5 separate regions of the Homo sapiens genome follow, and all the other regions are linked to region 1. Evidence: fine-mapped expression QTL. A gene starts in region 1. Each other region holds a variant in brackets. All regions are shown on one strand. Distances are between the middles of the regions.

The links. PIP is the estimated chance that this variant, and not a neighbour inherited with it, causes the effect.
Region 2: its variant is the best candidate, but not a certain one, in a credible set for the expression of OTOF in transverse colon (GTEx, PIP 0.50).
Region 3: its variant is the best candidate, but not a certain one, in a credible set for the expression of OTOF in whole blood (INTERVAL, PIP 0.64).
Region 4: its variant is the best candidate, but not a certain one, in a credible set for the expression of OTOF in whole blood (TOPMed, PIP 0.82).
Region 5: its variant is the best candidate, but not a certain one, in a credible set for the expression of OTOF in whole blood (TOPMed, PIP 0.61).

Annotation. Positions count from the first base shown.
Region 1 is chr2:26,556,381-26,560,495 of GRCh38, reverse strand. It overlaps OTOF (otoferlin), which reads left to right and starts at 1,740. Exons shown (of 47, transcript NM_194248.3): 1 at 1,740-2,003. The coding sequence starts at 1,925. RefSeq lists enhancers at 793-1,585, 1,586-2,379.
Region 2 is chr2:26,473,489-26,477,603 of GRCh38, reverse strand. It overlaps OTOF (otoferlin), which reads left to right. Exons shown (of 47, transcript NM_194248.3): 20 at 98-188; 21 at 316-432; 22 at 561-713; 23 at 1,287-1,476; 24 at 1,566-1,690; 25 at 2,111-2,245; 26 at 2,930-3,091; 27 at 3,494-3,613; 28 at 4,037-4,115. Among named protein-coding and RNA genes, the nearest start is that of DRC1, 74 kb to the right of the region's middle. RefSeq lists an enhancer at 1-45. The variant C/G (reference allele first, on the strand shown) is at 2,453.
Region 3 is chr2:26,507,431-26,511,545 of GRCh38, reverse strand. The region is part of intron 5 of OTOF (otoferlin); the gene reads left to right. Among named protein-coding and RNA genes, the nearest start is that of OTOF, 49 kb to the left of the region's middle. RefSeq lists an enhancer at 1-197. The variant G/A (reference allele first, on the strand shown) is at 2,045.
Region 4 is chr2:26,459,438-26,463,552 of GRCh38, reverse strand. It overlaps OTOF (otoferlin), which reads left to right. Exons shown (of 47, transcript NM_194248.3): 41 at 1-70; 42 at 1,372-1,470; 43 at 1,616-1,857; 44 at 2,523-2,701; 45 at 2,806-2,906; 46 at 3,348-3,545. The coding sequence ends at 3,528. Among named protein-coding and RNA genes, the nearest start is that of DRC1, 60 kb to the right of the region's middle. RefSeq lists enhancers at 1-701, 2,387-3,092. The variant A/T (reference allele first, on the strand shown) is at 2,325.
Region 5 is chr2:26,484,586-26,488,700 of GRCh38, reverse strand. It overlaps OTOF (otoferlin), which reads left to right. Exons shown (of 47, transcript NM_194248.3): 12 at 4,068-4,115. Among named protein-coding and RNA genes, the nearest start is that of OTOF, 72 kb to the left of the region's middle. The variant C/T (reference allele first, on the strand shown) is at 2,612.

The DNA of each region.
Region 1 (4,115 bases):
TGTGGAAAGTGAGATTCAGCATAGATCAATGCCTTGGCTAGGGCAGGATCATGGGCTTTTTCCTAAAGATGCACAGGGTCTATAAGAGGCCTCATGAAATTCACTCCTTTCAGGGGAGGACCTCCAGAGAACCAAGGAAGAAGATATTTTCTGTTGTTGTTGTTGTACCTTGTAGTCACCAAGCCTTAAAAACACAGATCACCTGATGACCTCATGGATGGAAAATGCTAGTGAATTTAGGTGTTTTTTTTTTTAAGACATTAAACTTATCTAGCTTTTGAAAATTTAGCATTCATACTTGTATTCAATAAACAGAATACTCTAAGACATTTTTAAATTCAATATGATTAGATAAATGTGAGAAAGGTAAGCAAGAATTGGTTAGGAAAAAGTGCAAAGGAAAAAAACGTAAGTAGAAAAAGAAAAATAGGGCACAGTAGCAAGGAAATATCTAGAAGGAGGAAAGAAGGCTCTTGGGACATACTGTAGGTTATTTGGAATGCAGAATTCAAAAGAAGTAACCTCTTGTTACCATGCTGTGAAAAATTAGTATTTCTCTTTTTAACCTTTAGACTCTGTTTCAGGTAGATCCCTGAGCTCACTCTTTTATCCTTTCAACAGTAATTGGGCATCCTACGGTGCACAGGATACCATGTGGGGCTCTGGGGTAGAGGGATGCTGTGCTCCAGGGCCCTCCTGAGGTCAGGAGGGGAAAAGGCAAGGGAAGCAGCCCCAGGACTCAGTAAGATGAGAGGAGGCAGGAGCAGCACAGAGGAGGACCCCAACCCAGCTGGGGTGCGGGTACAGAGGCACCTCCAGGAGCAGGCACTCAAGCTGAGTCCAGGGTGGGGTGGAGGGCATTCCACCAAGAATGAATAGCAAGAACAAGGCTGCAGATGACCCTGCACAGATTCCAGCATCAGGGATTCTGGCCCCCAGCGTCCCTTTCCTTGGTGTATGCTGCTGGAAGACAGGAGGGGGCAGTTCTCTTTTGGTCCTTAGAAATTTCCCTATAGACATCCCTTCTCCTGCCCCTAGCAGCTTATAACAGCAGAAGGCCATTCAATTCTGCTCCTCTGGCTGGAAAGCAAACATCAGCCTGGCTTACCTTCGCTAGCCTGCCTGACCCCCAGCCTTGGGGTGGGGCTAGGTTAGTGCCCTGGATCCTTAAACATGGCCCCTGGTAGCACATAAGCCTCTGCTGCCTCCACAACCAGCCATCTCCATCATGCATGGCCTGGTCCTGAGCCTCCCCTCAGGCAGCAGCCCCAGCCTCTCTGCTTCCTGAGATTCAGAAACAGGGATCCCAGGGCAGGGCTCAGGGCCCAGCCTCTTGGGGGCACAGTCTCCAGCAGGGAAGAGGTGGGCGTAGGTGGACAAATACATTCCCTTCTTCTTGTAGTGTGCCCCTGTGGGTGGGAGTGCCCCCCGCCCCACATCCACCCTACCTATGCTCATGCCCACTCCTCTGTGCCCACTACTGGTGGCAGGGCTTGCTTAGCAGGGAAGCAGCAGAGCCCTGCAGAGGGGTGGGCAGAGCCTCCCTTCCAGGAGCTGGGAGAAGACACCTGAAGCTGGACAGAGCTTTATCTGGGAGCCGGCGGCTGCTGAATAATGAATTCCAACTCTGCCGCACTCCCAGGCTGCACATTGGGTGCACACACACACACACACACACGCACACACCGATACACACACGCTGGGCTGACAACTTGGAGGGGCGGGGGCTGTGAGGCTCTGTGAGTCGCTGCAGGAGCAGCTTAGCTCGGCTTGGTTGCCTTGGTCTCTGTGGGCAGCATCGGAGGGGGGTCGGGAGGAGGAGGAGGAGGCAGCGGCAGAGAAGAGAGAGGCGTGTGAGCCGTGCTCCACCGGCTAGCTCCTTCCCGCTGCTCCTGCCTGGCAGTGCCAGGCAGCCCACACCAGCATGGCCTTGCTCATCCACCTCAAGACAGTCTCGGAGCTGCGGGGCAGGGGCGACCGGATCGCCAAAGTGACTTTCCGAGGTAGGGAAGCCGCTGTCTCAGAGGGACGCCAGCTCTGAGAGCTGGACCAGCCCATGCTCTGGAGGTGGCCGGGGATAGGACAGGGCTGGGAGGATGGGTGGGAAAAGTTCTAGCAGGGGCTGGGGCGACGAGCCTTTTCACAGGTAGTCATCTGCCTGGGACTGACTGGCCATTGTGATTTCTGGAAAATCAGGGTCCCCTGTTCTTCCATGCCTGTGTCTCCTTGTGCTTGCCAACATGCCAGTTCCCCGGGCAGGGCACAGAGCCCTCTGCCTGGGGAGGCAGAAGTGAGGACCACATCCCTGAGCTCAGGGAGACCCAGGACCCCCTCCTTCTCTCTCTCTCCCTCTCCTGCAGGTTGATTTCCTTGAGCACAGGGTGGGGGCCGGGTATGGAGCCTGGGGCACCCAGGGTGACTGGGAGAAACCAGGCAGCCAGTAGCTCCCTGGGCCCCAGAGTGATGGGGGACACTGTTGGCTTCTTTTAGATCTATTCATGGGCGGGAACCCCGGGAGCCCCTCGCCTCTCTTCTGTCTGGTCTTTTCTCATCCTTTTCACTCCTGTATTCAGCGACCATTTATTATGATCTACTGTGTCCCAAGGATAGGGGTAGAAACACAGAGCTGAGCACAACCCAGCCCCAGCCCCAAGGAGCCTGCATCTGTTGGGCAGGCGTGGAACAAGCAGGACAGGTATGTGAGACAGAAGGTGGGGGTGCAGCATGCAAGCTACAGAAGCAGCACCCTCACCCAGGCTGGTGACCGGTGGTCAGGGAAGGCTTCCCGGAGGAAGTAACACTCAGCTAATACCCGAAGGACCAGCGGGTGGGAGCTAGGAGAGGAGGTAAGGACTGAGGAGGCAGAGGAAACAGTGTGCCCAGAGCTGAGAGAGGAGCTGAAACTCTGGAACTGAAAGAGGTTCCATGTGTCTACAGCTCAGAGAGGGTGCAGGAGCGGAGGCCAGAGAGCCAAGCAGGGCAAGGAGGCGAGGCTGGACCTGACCCCGGGGACAGCGGAGCCCCTGAGCATTTTAAGTGGGGAAAGGCAGGGCCAGGCTGACTCTGTCCTTCACCACCCACCTCTGCCTCTCCATGTGGTTGCTGCCCAGCCCTGAGGGTTGGGGGTACTTCTCACTAGACATGGCCCCTTCTCCCGAGAGAGGGGTCTGAGAGTGGGATGGGGACGAGGTGGTGAGAAGGGGGCAGAGAGGACCCCCCTATACTAAAGAGCAAAGTGAGCCTTGGGGCCCAGGCTGGACACAGTGTCTGCACCTCTGTTGGAAGGGATGGGAGAGACCATTGGCAGAACATTCCAGCAAGAGCCCTGGGGCACCCACATCACCTACCCAGAGGCCCTGGGATGCCCACATTGCAGCTTGTGTTCATAGGGACAGGCAGGGGTGGAGGTGATGGCAGTGGCCCTGCCGGCAGGCGGAGGTTAGGCAGGAGGGAGAGGGAGGTGTGGGCTGGGCTGCCTTTTGCCTCCCACCCCAACCCACTGACTGCTTTCTCTGCAGCACCCTGGATCTCCCTCTGTGTGCCACCTGCAGGCTCATGCTGGCTTTAGAAAAAGCAAATGTGTCCTTTCATCTGTGAAATGTGGCCCTGAGCTCCACGGGCAGCATAGTGTGGGGCGGTTAAGCTACAGGTTGCCATCCTGCTGCAGCTGTGCTGGAACGGTCCAGGCTGCACCGGACAGGCCCACTTGCAGGCCGAGAAACCAAGGTTCAGGGGTAGAACACTGCGCGTGGCATTCACGGAGGAGCTGAGGCACGGTGGTCCCAGCTCTCAGGACCTCATCCTGAGTACTCAATCTTGCAAGCTCTTTATCTGCTCCTGGGCCACCTGGGGGCCAGCACCTTGTCTGACACCCATCTTCTCCTTGGAGCAGTGAAGGGCTGGGCCTTTAGCCTCACTGACCACACAGGAATTAGTTTATTTGCAACCCTTGCTCTCTGGACTGAGTGGAGAAATCGCTTCCAAGCTCCACATTGGCAGGAGGTGGCCATGGGCAGAGCTCCTGGGGAAGGGGGCTGGGCAGCAGGAATAGGCAGATGACAAGCAGTTTCCAGAAAGTACCTTTATTACAACGAAAGATGCCTCAGCCGCTCACC
Region 2 (4,115 bases), 83 kb after region 1:
GGACAAAGGGGACCCTGCCAGGGCTGGGCAGATGAGGAAGAATCTACAGAGCCCCTGCTGGTCAGGCTCGCTAAACCCCGGCTCGCCCTACCCCCAGCCGCTTCCTCTCCCTCGCTGACAAGGACCAGGGCCACTCATCCCGCACCAGGCTTGACCGGGAGCGCCTCAAGTCCTGCATGAGGGAGCTGGTGAGGACGCAACTGGACGGCGGGGGCTGGAGGGAGGGCCTGGTTGTGAGAAGGTGTCACAACCCCCTTTGTCATGGCCCGAGCTGTCCCCCAGTTGCTGGGTTCACTGACACCCCCTCCTTCGCAGGAAAACATGGGGCAGCAGGCCAGGATGCTGCGGGCCCAGGTGAAGCGGCACACGGTGCGGGACAAGCTGAGGCTGTGCCAGAACTTCCTGCAGAAGCTGCGCTTCCTGGCGGACGAGGTGCGGCCCAAGGGGTCGGGGCTTTGCCTCATCCAGGGCTGGCTCTCTGGGGCCCCTCAGGATCAGGGGGCTCAATCAGGAGGCTAGACCCCCTTACCCACTGCCCCTGGCCACCCCCCAACCCCCAGCCCCAGCACAGCATTCCCGACATCTTCATCTGGATGATGAGCAACAACAAGCGTGTCGCCTATGCCCGTGTGCCCTCCAAGGACCTGCTCTTCTCCATCGTGGAGGAGGAGACTGGCAAGGACTGCGCCAAGGTCAAGACGCTCTTCCTTAAGGTGCTGGAGGGGGCAGGATGGATGGGGGCCTGGGTCCTTTCAGGGGAGCAGCAGCCCCCACCTGGGGCTGGAAGCCTGAGTGACAGGGTGGGGCCTTCAAGCAGCAGGTGCTCAGAGAAGAGCCAAGAATGGGAAGGACGTGGGGGAAGGGGTGGGGAAGGAGGTGGGGGAAGGGGTGGGGGAAGGGGTGGGGAAGGAGGTGGGGGAAGGGGTGGGGGAAGGGGTGGGGGAAGGGGTGGGGAAGGAGGTGGGGGAAGGGGTGGGGGAAGGGGTGGGGAAGGAGGTGGGGGAAGGGGTGAGGGAAGGGGTGGGGGAAGGGGTGGGGAAGGAGGTGGGGGAAGGGGTGGGGAAGGAGGTGGGGGAAGGGGTGGGGAAGGAGGTGGGGGAAGGGGTGGGGAAGGGGGCATGACGGCCCCCTGCCCATCCTCCTGCCTCCACCGGACCCCAGCCCAGCGGGATGGCTGTGAAGGGGCAGGGCAGCTCTGACCAGGGCCTCTGCCGGCCCCTGCCCCTTCCCCACCTCTTGGGCCCTGGCAGCCGTCAGGCTCCTGGTGACCCCATGCCCACCCCCAGCTGCCAGGGAAGCGGGGCTTCGGCTCGGCAGGCTGGACAGTGCAGGCCAAGGTGGAGCTGTACCTGTGGCTGGGCCTCAGCAAACAGCGCAAGGAGTTCCTGTGCGGCCTGCCCTGTGGCTTCCAGGAGGTCAAGGCAGCCCAGGGCCTGGGCCTGCATGCCTTCCCACCCGTCAGCCTGGTCTACACCAGTGAGTGAGGACCCCTCACTCGAAGCCTCACCTGGGAGGGGGCCGGAGGGGCTGCCCATCCTGGAACCTCAGGCTGCCCTTCCCCACAGAGAAGCAGGCGTTCCAGCTCCGAGCGCACATGTACCAGGCCCGCAGCCTCTTTGCCGCCGACAGCAGCGGACTCTCAGACCCCTTTGCCCGCGTCTTCTTCATCAATCAGAGTCAGTGCACAGAGGTGAGGGCCTGGGAGGAGGGAGTGGCTCTGGCTTTGAGAGCACCAGAAGCCTGTGAGCCTGTGGGGACTGGAGCCTGTGGGGCCTGTGAGCCTGTGGGGCCTGGAGCCACAGGTCAGCCAGTGCCCCGGTTTCTCAGGGGAAGCCCTGCAGATAACTGCAGCAGACGCGGGTCACACTGGAAAGGCTACGGGCTTTAGCTGTGGTTATATTCACAAGACAGGGACGACAAGGAGGACATTGGCAGGGGGCTTGGGCCAAACCTCATATTAGCCTTGATTTTAAGATTTCTGGAAGAATCAAGACACCTGTCACTCCTGCCCCCAGGTTCCGTGGAAGCTGAGTGAGTAGGGGTGGCTTCTGTTTGTGCATCTGCCCCCCCCTCTGTCACTTGTCCCCTGTCTCCCCATCCCATGCTGCAGGTGCTGAATGAGACCCTGTGTCCCACCTGGGACCAGATGCTGGTGTTCGACAACCTGGAGCTCTATGGTGAAGCTCATGAGCTGAGGGACGATCCGCCCATCATTGTCATTGAAATCTATGACCAGGATTCCATGGTATGGGTGGGCTCTGGTGCCAGGGACCCCAGCAGCACCACACCTGGCCCTTGTTCCCTGCACTCCACCTGCGCTGAGGCTGTGCCCTCACCTCCGCCACCCACCTGCAGAGCTCCTTGGCCAGGTGCTGGCTGGGAAGCTGGGAGTGGGGGCTGACATCTAGCTCCTCCTGCCTGCTTGCGGCAGCCTGACCCCTTCCCAGGCCAG[C/G]ACATCCTCACCTCCTGTCTCCTACAGACTGAGCCCTGGAGGTGTGCCAGCAAGTCCTGCTGTCACTAGCCTCCCCACCCCAGGGCTCCCCGACCCCTGCCCTCACCTACCACAACCAGTAACAGCCTTGCCATCCTCCGTGGAGGTTCTGGAGCAGGGAGTAAGGGATTGGGGTGACCCCCGAGAGTTAGCGAGCCACCTTCTCACATACCACCTCAGCTGCTGAGGTGCCCAGATAGCCCTGGACTAGAGGTAGGAGGACCTCATGTCTAGTCCTGAGCCGGGCATCTGCCATTTACTGACTGCTTGGCCTTGAACAAGTCTTTGGTGGGCCCTGAGACTTGGTTTCCTCATCTGTAAAATGGGGTGATCACACCTGTCCCTTACAACAACTCATGGCGCTGTGGTAAGGACCAAACGAGATCACAGGTGTGGACAGCAAGCACCAAGAGGCTTCTGGGTTGTCTGTTGCGTCAGGGCAAAGCTGACTTCATGGGCCGGACCTTCGCCAAACCCCTGGTGAAGATGGCAGACGAGGCGTACTGCCCACCCCGCTTCCCACCTCAGCTCGAGTACTACCAGATCTACCGTGGCAACGCCACAGCTGGAGACCTGCTGGCGGCCTTCGAGCTGCTGCAGGTGGGACTGCAGGGAAGAGGGGCTGAGGCCTGGGGACTGGAGGCTGGGAGTTGGGGCCTAGGGCTGGGGGCTGGACCCTGAAGGCTGGGGCCTGGGGTCTGGGGCCTGGGGGTGGGGCCTGGGGGCTGGAGGCTGGGGCCTGGGGCTGGGGGCTGGGGCTGAGGGCTGGGGCCTGGGGCCTGGGGGGTTAGGGCCTGGGCGTTAGGTCCTGGGGGTTGGGGCCTGGAGCTGGGGCCTGGGGGCTGGGGCCTAGGGGCCTCTCTCCTACCCATCCTGACCAAAGCTGGGGGCGTGGTCCTTAGGGGGTTTCCCTGTCTCCCCAGATCATGGCAAACAACTCATGGGGAAAGAGACCCTGTCCCTGGGCTCCCCAGTGTGTGACCTGTGACCCCCATTCCCCAGATTGGACCAGCAGGGAAGGCTGACCTGCCCCCCATCAATGGCCCGGTGGACGTGGACCGAGGTCCCATCATGCCCGTGCCCATGGGCATCCGGCCCGTGCTCAGCAAGTACCGAGTGGAGGTGCGAGGGCTCTGTGTGGCCCTTCCCTTTTGGATGAGGAGTCTGAGGACCCAGGAGGGGAAGTGGCTTGTCATCCCCCTCCCACCACCATCACCAGGAGCCAGCAGCAGACCCAGGCTCCTGCCCCAGCCCAGGGCCTGCCCCCATCTGCACCAAGTCGCACTCCCATGTCCCAGGACCATGCCCAGCCCTCCTGTCTGCACCCCTGACCCTGCACCCCTTCTCCGGGCAGCCCCACCCTCATCCCTGGAGAACGCCTGCCCCTCCTCTGCTCTCCTGGCCCTGCTCCCACCCTTTGAAATCTGGGGTGAACTACTGCCCATCCCACTGCCCGGTTCCCTATTGGATGGTCCAGCACCCCCATGGCTGGCTCCCTTGACTAAGGGGCTCTCTTCTCTGCACCCACCCTCCAACCTCTCCCAGGTGCTGTTCTGGGGCCTACGGGACCTAAAGCGGGTGAACCTGGCCCAGGTGGACCGGCCACGGGTGGACATCGAGTGTG
Region 3 (4,115 bases), 49 kb after region 1:
CAGTCAAGTCTACCTGGGCAAGGCCTGTGCCAGAACAGGGTGTGAGGAGAGGAATAATTTGCTAATTGTTATTCACTTTCCTGTCTTCATCCTCATTGCCACAGCACTGGGAAAGCATTGAGAGAACATTCCAGAAAAGTTTTCTGGAAGCCTCCCTAAAGTGAGATAGGGGGGCCGTTTTTCCCTGCTCTGAGCCCTGGAGTGGTAGCTCACTTACCGCCCCACCTACACCCCTAGAACTGCCCCCAACCACCCGTGTGCACTCCATAGCAGGACCCCCAGCCCTGCCTCACCCTCACAGAGCAGGCTTAGCCCACTGTTCCCCTAGAGGCCCCCAGAGCCTGGGAGCTCCCACCCCATTGGAGGGGAGCAGGGGAGCAGGGGAGCCGGTGGGCAGAGGAGCAGGGTGGCCCAGGCCGGGAGGGTGGCCAGGCTCATCTAACCCTGTGTTCCCTGAGGAAGCTGCGACCCACATTGTGGAATCATCAGATCTTAGCCTGGTAGGGGCGATGAGCTGAGGCCCTGAGGTATCAGAGCTTGGGGTTGGAATAGTGGCCACCCAGGCCCAGCACTGTGGGCCCCTCCCATCTCCCCCAAGGCAGAACCCAGGGCCATGGGACCCCTTTTCTGCAGACCTAGGCTTGCTACCGTGCGAAGCTGTGGGGTGAGAGGTCTGTGGGACAAGGAGGCCCCCGGGGAGCGTGCAGGCCCGTGGGGCCGGGGCTGAGGCCAGTGTCTCTGGTCCACAGCCCCTCACACGTGTCCCCTTGTCTCCTCATTTCTTCCCCCTACTCAGCAAAGGCAGAGAGAAGACCAAGGGAGGCAGAGATGACGAGCACAAGTAGGTGTCCCAGGCGAGGGCAGACGCAACAGCGTCTCTGGGGAGACAGAGGCCTCCTCCCCACAGGCTGTGGAGGGCGGGATGGGCTCGGCTGAGAGGGCTCAGGAGTGGGCTGTCGTGGTAGAGCTGGCACGGGTCATGGAGGCCCAGGGAGGCCTTTTCACCTGGCCACGGGGGTGAGGGATGAGGAGGGGTTAGGGTCGCGGGGGAGGTGGCCAGACCTTCTGGTTTCCACTCTGGGCTCTCGGGGGTGACCATCCTCCTCTCCGTGTCTTGTTCCTCCTCCACTGTTCAGCCCCCATCCTGTGGCCTTCGGGCTTCCCTGGGAGGGAGGGGACAGCTAAAGGCTAAGGGGAGAGGGGCATGAGGACCTCAGGGATCCCTCTCCCAACAGGGGCGAGGTAGGGCCAGGCAGCTGGAGGCATAAGGAGGAGGAACTCTGGGTACCCTTTGCAGCTGCAGGTCGTGGGTGGAGTTGGAGACCCCCAGAAAGCTTAGGAGAGGCCACCATTTGGGCGGCCCTCTCTATCTTCATCTCCCCAAAAGGCTTCCTGGAAAAATGAGGTCAGGGTGCTGTCTGGAGAGGACAGGAGAAGGGTCCTGCAGGTGGGAGGGGCTGGTCACAAGGGTCTGGAAAGATTCGAAGGCTGGGAGTTGTGAATGGGTCTTGTAGGCACCCCTAGAAGCACACTGACATCTGGAGGACTCTAGCATTACGGGATCTCATAAGGGCAGTGGTAGCCAAGGTGGACCATACTGGAGGAGGCCTCTGGTTAACACCTGCTCTTACAGATGACAAATCTGTCTCAGAACAGGGGCAGAGCTGGAACCAGAAGACAGGGAAGCTGACTTCTGACCCAGAGCTCACCATAGACCCAGGAAATTTAGAGAACTTGACTGTATCTAAATTTAATCTAATTCTCCAAACATACCAATGAGAGCTGAAAAGCCAGGAGTGTGGTCTTTTTTATCTTCCAGATAAGCAACCTGAGCCCCAGAGATCTTAAGAGATTTGCTCAAAACTGTGGCCTCAATATATTAAGAATTAGTTCATCTGAAGATATCATGGAAATATCAGGATTGTGTGTTGAGGGGTCTGAACTGATCAACACTGGTGTGGGCTTGGGATATCCACTGGCATTAAGATCCTGGGGAACTCACAGCCTCATTCATTGCTTCAAAAAAAGGTATGAGTTCTAACTC[G/A]CATTTGTTACGCACAAGCAAAAGCAATGATGATGCAGTGTTAACTCTGTAGTGATGGAGGAAATGGCGCTGTGTAGGAAGAGCTCCAGCCCAGAGACCTGAAGGATGGAGGAGTTTGCCAGGTTCCCAGTAAGGGAAGACACGTAGGCAGAGCATGTGTCAAGGCTCAGAGCCAGGGAACTGAATCCAGGGTGGGTGGCGATGATGGGGAATGCTGAGCTGGGGAGTCCTCTTAGGGAGTCCTCAAGGGTTCAGGTTTCTCCATAGATGCTTAGATGTAAAGGGCATATGAATGAGATACAAGCAGCCTGTCCATCCCCAGCTTCTCTGCCTGAGATCAGCGATGCTCTAAGGCCCTTCTTGATGCCCAGCTTCCCAGTCTGTCCCAGGCCAGACCCACAGGGACACAGACTGGCCTGATCCCTTTGACTGGCTACAGTTGGAGTAAGAGGTACCTCACAGTGCCAGCACATAGTAGGTCCACCAAAATACTGGTTTCCTAGCACTTCTCTGTCCTAATTTCTTACCATCTCTAATTAGCACATGAGATAAAGTAAACTGGCATATAGTATTGTTATTATTATTATGTGTAGAGCAATAGGACTATTGAAAGAATAGGAAAATGAGATTTCTAAGAAGAGATTGAACAAATTTAAACTCTTTAGCCTGGAGGAGAGAAAACTGTGGAGACAGATTTCAATCTCTGAAATGTTAATGTGTGGCAAAGCTGGTTGGTATCTATCTCCACTGAGAAGAGATAAATGGAAATAAATTTAAGTTGAAGTTAAGTTGAAGTAGAGAAACAAGATTCAACCCACGAAAGAACTCATAGTGTGTGACATTCTGGGATAGGCTGGTTTGGGGAGATGAGAAAACACCCATCATCTTCCATGATGCTGCTTGCTTGAGCCTTGCAAAGGGCTGGGCCGCCAGCAAGAACTGAAGAGCCAGCTTCCCTGACAATCCTGGGGTCAGGACAAGTGTGTGTGGGTCCCCCAAGCCTTCTGGTACAACGTGGGCACATGTGCAAACGGGCCAGTTTGGAGACAGGGTGGTTCTTGTATAAAGGGTCAGCCTATCCTGCCCACCTATGGAAAGCTATTCAAAAACTAACTGACATTCAACACACTTTCAAAGACACCTGTAAAGACCAAAATTATGAAATTCCCTGTGCCTTGGGGCATGGAAAATTTTTAAAATAAACCCATTTAGGGGCGCTTGGATAACATGCTCCGAGGTTTTGAAAATTGGGCTGTTTGAGCAATGCAAAGAAGGACCACAGACCCTATTTCTCATAGACAGGAGTCTTTATCCTGATTGATTACCTGAGGCCTGAGCTAATGAGCCTAGTAGTTCCAGTTGAAGCCAGTCATGGGGCAGAAGCCCTGGGCAGTGAATGGACTCGACCTGCAGCTCATTTATGGTCAGGTCTCTATTAGCTTTCAGAATAATCCAGAGACCTGAATTAATGAAACACTCGGGTCACTAAATTTAGTTTGGTGAATGTTCCCAAGTCATTATGAATACTAAGCTCTACCTAGGACCCTGTGTGCACCACACAGCAACACGCTTCTAAATCTGGGCCATAAAATGAGCGGAGAAATCATCAGATTTATAGTTTACAATAAGTGAACTAATTTTAGCATTTTTTTCCTCTAGAGATAAATACCAGTCTAGATTGTAGGTGCATTTCATTCTGACCATGGTGAATGTAGCCACAGGAAACTCAAACGGATTCTAAATCCTCAGAGGGTCCTGGGATACTGGCCTCCCCTTGGCTCTCACTTCTCAAGCTTTAATACGCCCAAGAATAAGGAGCCATTTGATTGTAAAGTGAGTTTTCACTGAGTTGATTATTGGCTTGTTTTCTTTGTCTGTTTCTCACCATATCCTGTTTTTGGTAATTGTAGAACTCAACTAGACCAAATGCAGAATTTTACTTTGAAAACAAAAAAAGGCCAGGACAACGGACACCTCAACAGCAAATTACATTTTTTGAAATCTAAGTCTTTCAGACAAATAGATAATCTTCAAAATTCCCTGATTAAGTTGACATTTATTTCAAAACTCT
Region 4 (4,115 bases), 97 kb after region 1:
TGGACATGTTCCCCATGGACATGCCAGCCCCTGGGACGCCTCTGGACATCTCACCTCGGAAGCCCAAGAAGTGAGCGGCCTGGGGCCCAGCGCTACTCCCTTCCGGCCCACCCCACCCACTTCCCACCACGGCCCAACCCTTCCTGCGGGGGGCTCAGGTCCAGATGGCCTTGGCCAGTTGGCATCCCTGGGGCCTGGGTGTGGCCACTGGGCCTTATAGGGGAGAAACTGACCAACCAATCGATAGAGTTTAGGGCCTGCCCTGGAGAGTCCCCACGTGCTAAGGCAGGACAACGCCTTCCACCCTGCATCAGTGAGCGAGACAAGCCCCACACAGCACACTCCGGTGCATTGTATCTACACGGTCTACGCGCCCATACACATGCATCTCATGCACACACACACACACAGCATAGCACTCCCACGGACACCCACACACATGCCCACACTGACGCACTCCTTCACAACACACAGAACCCCTGGGAGCCGGCCCTGCGTCATCCTCACATCCAGGCTAGTGTGATGTTCCGCCAAGTTTTCTTTGGAGTGCCTGCCAGTGATGAATCCAGGAGTGAGTGCCTGGAAGAGGCAGGAGGTGGTAGAGTGAAAAGAACCCGGGTTTCCCATCCATAAAGCGGCAGGTTCAAGTCCAGCTGTCAGACAGTGACTGGATTCAGGGCCAGCTTCAGGGATGGAGGAAGCCACACAGGGTCCCACTCTTGTTTCCATGCTCCTATGTTGCCATCTTGAAATTCTTTATGACAAGTGACCCTGCATTTCCATTTGGCGCTGGCCCCAGCAAATCATGCAGCAAATTCTGCCAGGAATGTCCTGGAAACCTGAGGCCATGAGTCAGCTGTTCCAGGGCCTGTCATTAGGGGGCACCCAACTCACTGGGCCACTCTGGGCTCGCAGCCCTGTCTGCAATCCCAGGAGAGCCATGCTCAGATCAATTTTTAGTGAATGACTCAGCCTCACTCTTAATGATTGAAATGAACTACATCATTCATAATTACAATTAAACCTTGAGGGGAAAATCCTCTTTGGGGACAGGGACATACAGCTTCCATGGGCTTCCATTGCTGGCTACTGGGCTTAAATGCAGACTTCTCTTGGAACTAGCATCTGAGACAGAGGGTGGCTTCCTCCCCTCACCCCACCCCCACCGCCCACAGCCATGTGCCTGGTGGGCCTTCTCACTCATGCCTCTGCTCCCCCAACCCCAAACCACTCCTCCAGCCCCAGCCTGGCCCAGGCCCTGTGCTGACCCCAAGACCCCAGGGCTTCTCTCCGCCTGCCCCATCCCAGCCCTGGCACCCTGGCATAACCCCCACCTGGGGCTGCTAACCAGCCTTCTCTCCCTGGGCCCAGGTACGAGCTGCGGGTCATCATCTGGAACACAGATGAGGTGGTCTTGGAGGACGACGACTTCTTCACAGGGGAGAAGTCCAGTGACATCTTCGTGAGGGGGTGGGTGAGCAGTCCCTGCATGGGAGGGACTGAGCTGGGTGGGGCTTGCTTCCCGGGGGGCAGGAGAGGAGGCAGAGGGAAGGTGGCTGTGGGTGGGAGAGGCCCCACCAGCCTGGCTGCGGGTCTGGAGATGTGGCGCCCACAGGTGGCTGAAGGGCCAGCAGGAGGACAAGCAGGACACAGACGTCCACTACCACTCCCTCACTGGCGAGGGCAACTTCAACTGGCGCTACCTGTTCCCCTTCGACTACCTGGCGGCGGAGGAGAAGATCGTCATCTCCAAGAAGGAGTCCATGTTCTCCTGGGACGAGACCGAGTACAAGATCCCCGCGCGGCTCACCCTGCAGATCTGGGATGCGGACCACTTCTCCGCTGACGACTTCCTGGGTGCAGAGCAGGGCAGGGATGGGGGTTCAGGATCCAGAACTGAGAAGAGGCAGGGGCCGGGTTGGCGGGGACAGGGAGAGCCCTGCCTTGGGGGGACAAGGGGTCATTGCTTCCAGTCCATCAGAGCCAGGGGTGTCCGACGGGGTTCCGCCCCCAAGGACCCACCTAACCGTCCCTAGGCAGATGTTCTCAGTGTCATAACCAGGCTGACAACAAGCTTTGGACACACCAAGGAGGGGGCAGTCAGTGATGATGGGGGAGGGGAGAGGCTCCCTAAGGGAGTCGGGAAACCTCCCTGGGCCTCAGGTTGCTTCTCTGTAAAGCAGGGATTCTCCCTAAAACTCTAATCTGCATCTGCAAAAGCTTGTGGGATTAGCAGGACTTTGACAGAATGGATGCATGGCAGGGAGTGGCAGGGGAGACCCCAGGAGAGACCCTCTGGGGTGAAAGAAGGACCTGAGTAAAGC[A/T]TGGGGGCTGGGGCTGCCTAGCAAGCCCACGAGGATGCCTGCATTGAGGCCAGTTGCTGGGAGTGAGGCAGGAGGATGAGATGTGGGCTCAGGGAGGTCTGCACTCAGCAAACAAGGGGCCGAGGAGCCCAGACCCCCACCCCCACCCCGCCCCACCCCAGCCCTGTTCACTCTGAGCTGACACTGAGGTTGCCACAGGGGCCATCGAGCTGGACCTGAACCGGTTCCCGCGGGGCGCAAAGACAGCCAAGCAGTGCACCATGGAGATGGCCACCGGGGAGGTGGACGTGCCCCTCGTGTCCATCTTCAAGCAAAAGCGCGTCAAAGGCTGGTGGCCCCTCCTGGCCCGCAATGAGAACGATGAGTTTGAGCTCACGGTGCGCACCCCTTCCTGCTCGGGCAGTAGGCAGGGCTGGGACTGGCTGGGGTGCCAAGGGCCCAGCACGCAGCCTGGACGCTGGGACCTGTCTGTCCTCTGCAGGGCAAGGTGGAGGCTGAGCTGCATTTACTGACAGCAGAGGAGGCAGAGAAGAACCCAGTGGGCCTGGCCCGCAATGAACCTGACCCCCTAGAGAAACCCAAGTGAGTGCCCTGCCGGCCCAGCCCCTCCCCACTCTGGCTCTTGGAGGCGCTGGAACAGGAAGGAGACGATCCCCAGACACCCCATCTCTTCCTGGGCCACAGCCTCATTACAGGGGAGCCTCCTCCCTGCCCTCTGCCAACCCTGAATCCCACAACGTCCCTTTGAACCAGAGGATGGGCTAGGAATACTGGAGAGCAGGACCTTCCCTGGGAAAGGCCCCATCTAGCGGAGAGAAACTATGCTCTTCCCTTCCTAGCTTTTGCAGAAGAGCCAGCTCCAGTGGTGGCCTCTGGGGCCATGGCCAGCCTTGATGGCCAGAGGGGTGCCTAGAACTGCACACACAGCCCAGGACAGCTTCCCTCTTGGTCTTGGCCCCTCGCCACACCCAATCCCTTCTCCTCCCTGTCCCTCCTCTGCGCTCTCTACCCTTCATACTCCAGCCGGCCCGACACGAGCTTCATCTGGTTCCTGAACCCTCTCAAGTCGGCTCGCTACTTCTTGTGGCACACGTATCGCTGGCTGCTCCTCAAACTGTTGCTGCTCCTGCTGCTGCTCCTCCTCCTCGCCCTGTTCCTCTACTCTGTGCCTGGCTACCTGGTCAAGAAAATCCTCGGGGCCTGAGCCCAGTGGCCTCCTGGGTCTGATATTTCTTACTTCTTCCTCTGGACCAAGGGCTAGGCAGGCGCGTGCACACACACACATATACACGCACACATCCACAAACACAAATATGCATACATGTGCACACAAACACACACAAGCATGTATGCACACATGTGCCACGCACAAGTGCATACACATGCACTCAAGCACACACAGGCACACACTTAAGCCCACACAAACATGCACAGCAACTTTCAAGCTTTCATGACAGAATAGACTCTCAGAACTAGAAATGACTATTTTACACTTTTCCACATTAAGCCAAAGAGGTGAAGTAGCTTGCTCAAGGTTACCCAGCAAATTAGGGTAGAGCCGGGACTCAAGCCAAGGTTTCCAAATTTCCAATCCTGTGTTCTTTGCACACCACCTCTGCTCCCAGCCATGTTTCTCCCAGACTGTAACCCAATTTTTTTTTTTTTTTTTTTTTTTTGGAGACAGAGTCTCGCTCTGTCGCCCAGGCTAGAGTGCAGTGGCACAATCTTGGCTCACTGCCAGCTCCGCCTCCCGGGTTCACGCCATTCTCCTGCCTCAGCCTCCTGAGTAGC
Region 5 (4,115 bases), 72 kb after region 1:
CCGGGGGTGAAGTCAGGCTGTGTGTCCCCAGAGCCTCACTGAGCCACACTATCCAATCTGAAAGCGGTGATGCTGGTCAATGCCAGATGTAGTGCGGCGGCCTCTGAGGGACTCTGGTCTCTGAAAACACTTCTTACAAGAGCCCCAGGCTTTTGGGCAGCCATGTGTGCTCCGTGGCGTCCTGTAGGGTAACAGCAATGGTGTTGGCAAGGGAACCCCAAGGGGTGGCCCAGAGGGCTTGTGAGGTGGGCCAGGCAGAGGAAGTGCCTCAGCCTGCCAGATGACAGCTCACCACGTGGGCAGGTTAGGGACCACCCTGTGTCCCTGAAGTGAATGCACTGCTCAGAGTGCTGTAATGACCCCATTAGGCGCTTTGACAGTGAGAACATAATTTCACCCAATTGTCACATTGGGCCCTCACAAAACAGTAATGTAGGCAGCAGCATTTCTTCCCATTTTGCACATGAGATAAATGAGGCTAAGAGAAATGAAGGGGCTTAGAGATACCACTAAACTAGTAGGTTGAACAAATTGGCGATCGCTTGTGGTTCAACCTAAGAGACGTCCAGCTGGTGCACATTACAACTATGACTTAGACCAGGGAATCTGAGTCCAAAACCAAGATTATACACATAAAAATCACAAGATCATAGAACACTCAAGCTGCCCAAGACCTGAAAAACATCTAGTCCAGCCTCTGTGAAGATAAACTGAAGCCCAAGGTGATGAAGGGGTTTGTCCACCATCTAGGAGTAGCACCCCTGTCTCCAGCTCCCAGGCCAGTGCCTTTGCCACCACCCCACACATGCCATAGCCCTCAGCGGAGGGCAGCCCTGCTGACCATCAGTGCCATGGGGAGCAGGGAAGAGTCGGCCTCCTGCCATGTTGCTTTCCAGGAAGCATGCATAGCCGTGGACTACTTGCTTGGAATGACTGGCATCCCTGAGGATAAGCTCCTCCCAGGGCTGAGCAGTGGCCCTGGTACCACTGGCAGGCCTGAGGCCGAGAGCCAAGAGAAAGTCAGGGGGTGGAGAAAAAGGCAGATATTAGTCTAATATGGACCTCTGGGCTTCTGGGTAGTAAAGTCCTGGTGAGGAAACCACCAGGGCATCAGTAAGTGCCAGATGTTGGGCTAAGCTCACTGTCCCAGCAGGCCTCACCCTCACGACCCCATATAGGCATCATTCCCATTTCACCATAAGGAAACTGAGGCTCAGCAGGCTTAAACAGCTGGTCCAGGGCCACATTGTGAGTAAGCGGCAGAAACAGGATGTGGGCCGAGGTCTCCACTTGGGTAACCTAGCTCGAGATTTGCTGCTTCTGCTGAATCCAGCCCTGAGCCTGGTGCCCTCCCAGGGACAGGAGAGCCTGAAGTCACATGGGTCCTGGAGTTGAGACCCAATGTCTTTACTCTGATATCTCCAGTTTGGCCTGAACTTCTTGATGAGTCGTTGGTTCCAGCCAGGGCATTGTTGGACAGCATGCTCCCAGAGACACTCCTGGGTGCTGCTGGGAAGCTTTGGGTGGTGTCGATATCTCTTGGAACTGGAAGGGGTTTCCCGAGAGAACCTCTTCTCACCCTGGCAGGACCACATTTTGTCATTTGTACCACCAGATGCAACATCAGGAAACTGTTTACTGTTTGCTACTCTCTGTTGGGGGTGAGGACGGGCCATACACTCATCCTCATAGATCATAGAGGAAGTCAGGGGCATACACTCATCCTCATAGATCATAAAGGAGGTCTGGGATGCAGCAACTTCCCCAGCTGGGCTACCCTTGACTGGCAGGTGTCAGCCCCAGGCTGAAGGGAGGTGAAATGATGTTTCAGGCTGGTAAGCATATAGCTCAGGATCTCATGTGGTCCTTGTATCTCTAGCCTGAGATCACACAGTATTAGGACTAGAAGGGCCTCAGAAGTCATGAGTCAAGTGTTAACCTGATGTAGGGACCCCCACAGCACCATCTCTGATTGGTCCTCTAACCTTGCTTAGTCCTCCCAGAAATGGGGCACTCACTACTTCTTATTTTAGATATCTTCACTTTCTTTAGGTCATCTCAAAATCTGTCACCCTGTAACCTTCACCCACTTTCACACGTCTCTCTTTCAGGACAAAAAGAAAAATAGCCTTTAAATTTGAAGGTAAATTTTACATTCCTCCTGAACCGTATTCTCTTTCTTTGCTAAATGTCCCCAATTCATCTAACCATGCACACCTCTATACATCTACCCCTGTATCCATCCATCCACTCACCCACCCATCTACAAATCCATCCACCCACCTGTCCACAGATCCACCCACCCATCCATGTATCCATCCATTCACGCACCAATCCATATATCCATTGGTCCACCCACCCACCCATCCGTGAATCCATCCACCCACCCACCCGCCTGTCTACAGATCCACCCACTCACCCATATATCCATCCATCCACCCACCCACCCATCCATATATCTACCCACCCATCTATCCACAGATCCATCCACCTACCCACCCATCCACAGATCCACCCACCCATATATCCACCCATCCACCCACCCATCCATATATCTACCCACCCACCTGTCCACAGATTAATGGCTCCTTCTATCCAGTAATCCATTCAC[C/T]ATCTGTCCGTCTATCTCTCAGCCGGCCAGGCAGCTCACCACCCATCCCTCTGCCCATTTATGCACCCATTCATTGAGCTTTCTGTCCATCTCCTCATCCGACACACATCTGCTCTGGCAAGACCTGAAGCTCCTGGGATTCCTGGGACATGGCCCCTCCCTGGAGGCCTGCCAGCCTGGCTGAGGTTCTCCAGTGACTCCTCATCCACGTGCCTTCCTGCCCTCTCACCTTGCTTGTCCCTCTCTTCAGACTCTACTGTGGCATTATCTTTTCTGAGACACAGGTGGCCTGGCTATTCCCAGAAAGGCCAACCTCTGTACACAGCCCCTAACATCTCCGGGAGCCCACCAGGGCCACAGGCTTGCAGGACACAGGCCTGGGCTACGGTAGAAGGTGGAAGAGGAGGGAGTGAAGGAGGGAGGTGCTGAGTCCCTGAGAGTTCAGTGCCCACCTAACATCCCGGGAAGCAGATTCCTAAGGCACAGTGATGCGCTTCCCTTTGCTTGCCCACTGGGCTTAAAGTAAACCTGAAGGGGCAAATCCTTCCTAAAGCGCCTCCTTCCCTGACATCCGTCCTTTCCTCCACACAGTCATAGGTCATGGGACACTGGGATGAGACTGACAATCCCTGTCTTTAGGAGACTCTCAGTCTAAAATCAGAGCCAAACAATACCCAGATCAGCACAGTGAGATGGGAGGTGTGCATGGAGAGCACAGAGAACAAACACTAAAGAGCCCAGGATCAACTCTTCCGAGGAAGTCAGGGAGGGCTGCATGGAGGAGGAGAGACTTGAGCAAAATGAGTAGAAGTTTACAAATTGAATAGGGAGAAAGACAGGTGGAGGTGGAGAGAACAGGAATGAGGGCATTCCAAGCTCAAAGAGCAGCAGATGCAAAGGCATGGAGGTATAAAAGGGCATATAAAACCGCAACACCTGTTCAGCAAGGAGGAACACAGGGCTGGGTGGGCTCAGCAGAGTGAGTCAGGGAGCACTAAATCAGGAGCCTGCAGGCCATGCCTTTTGTCTTCACCCCAAGGCACTGGGAAGCCCCAGAGGGGCTGAAGATGGGGAGCAGGAGCATGAGCCTCCACCTGGGAAGGCCCTGTGTGCAGCTGTGTCCTTCACAGCTATGTGAAGGCTGGCTGACTGGGGTGGGGCCATAGAAGAGGCCACAGGCAGAAAAACCCAATTAGGAGGAGGCTGTCGTGCTTCCAAGTCACACCACTCATGGGATATATGTCCATGGGCAGGCCATGCACCCACTGCCCCAGCTCCAGAGGACCTCAGACTCTATCACACCCTGGGCTAGGGACAGGCAGAGCTGTGGCCCCAGGTCCCGGGACTCTAGGGACCAAGACAGCATTTGGTTCTGCCACCCCTTGGCCTGCCCTGAGCACTGGGAGACGCTCTGGGTGGGGGTGTCTGGTGCAGTGCCCACCCCTCATCATTGCAGAGCACCAGTTCCATCACAAGTGGGCCATCCTGTCTGACCCCGATGACA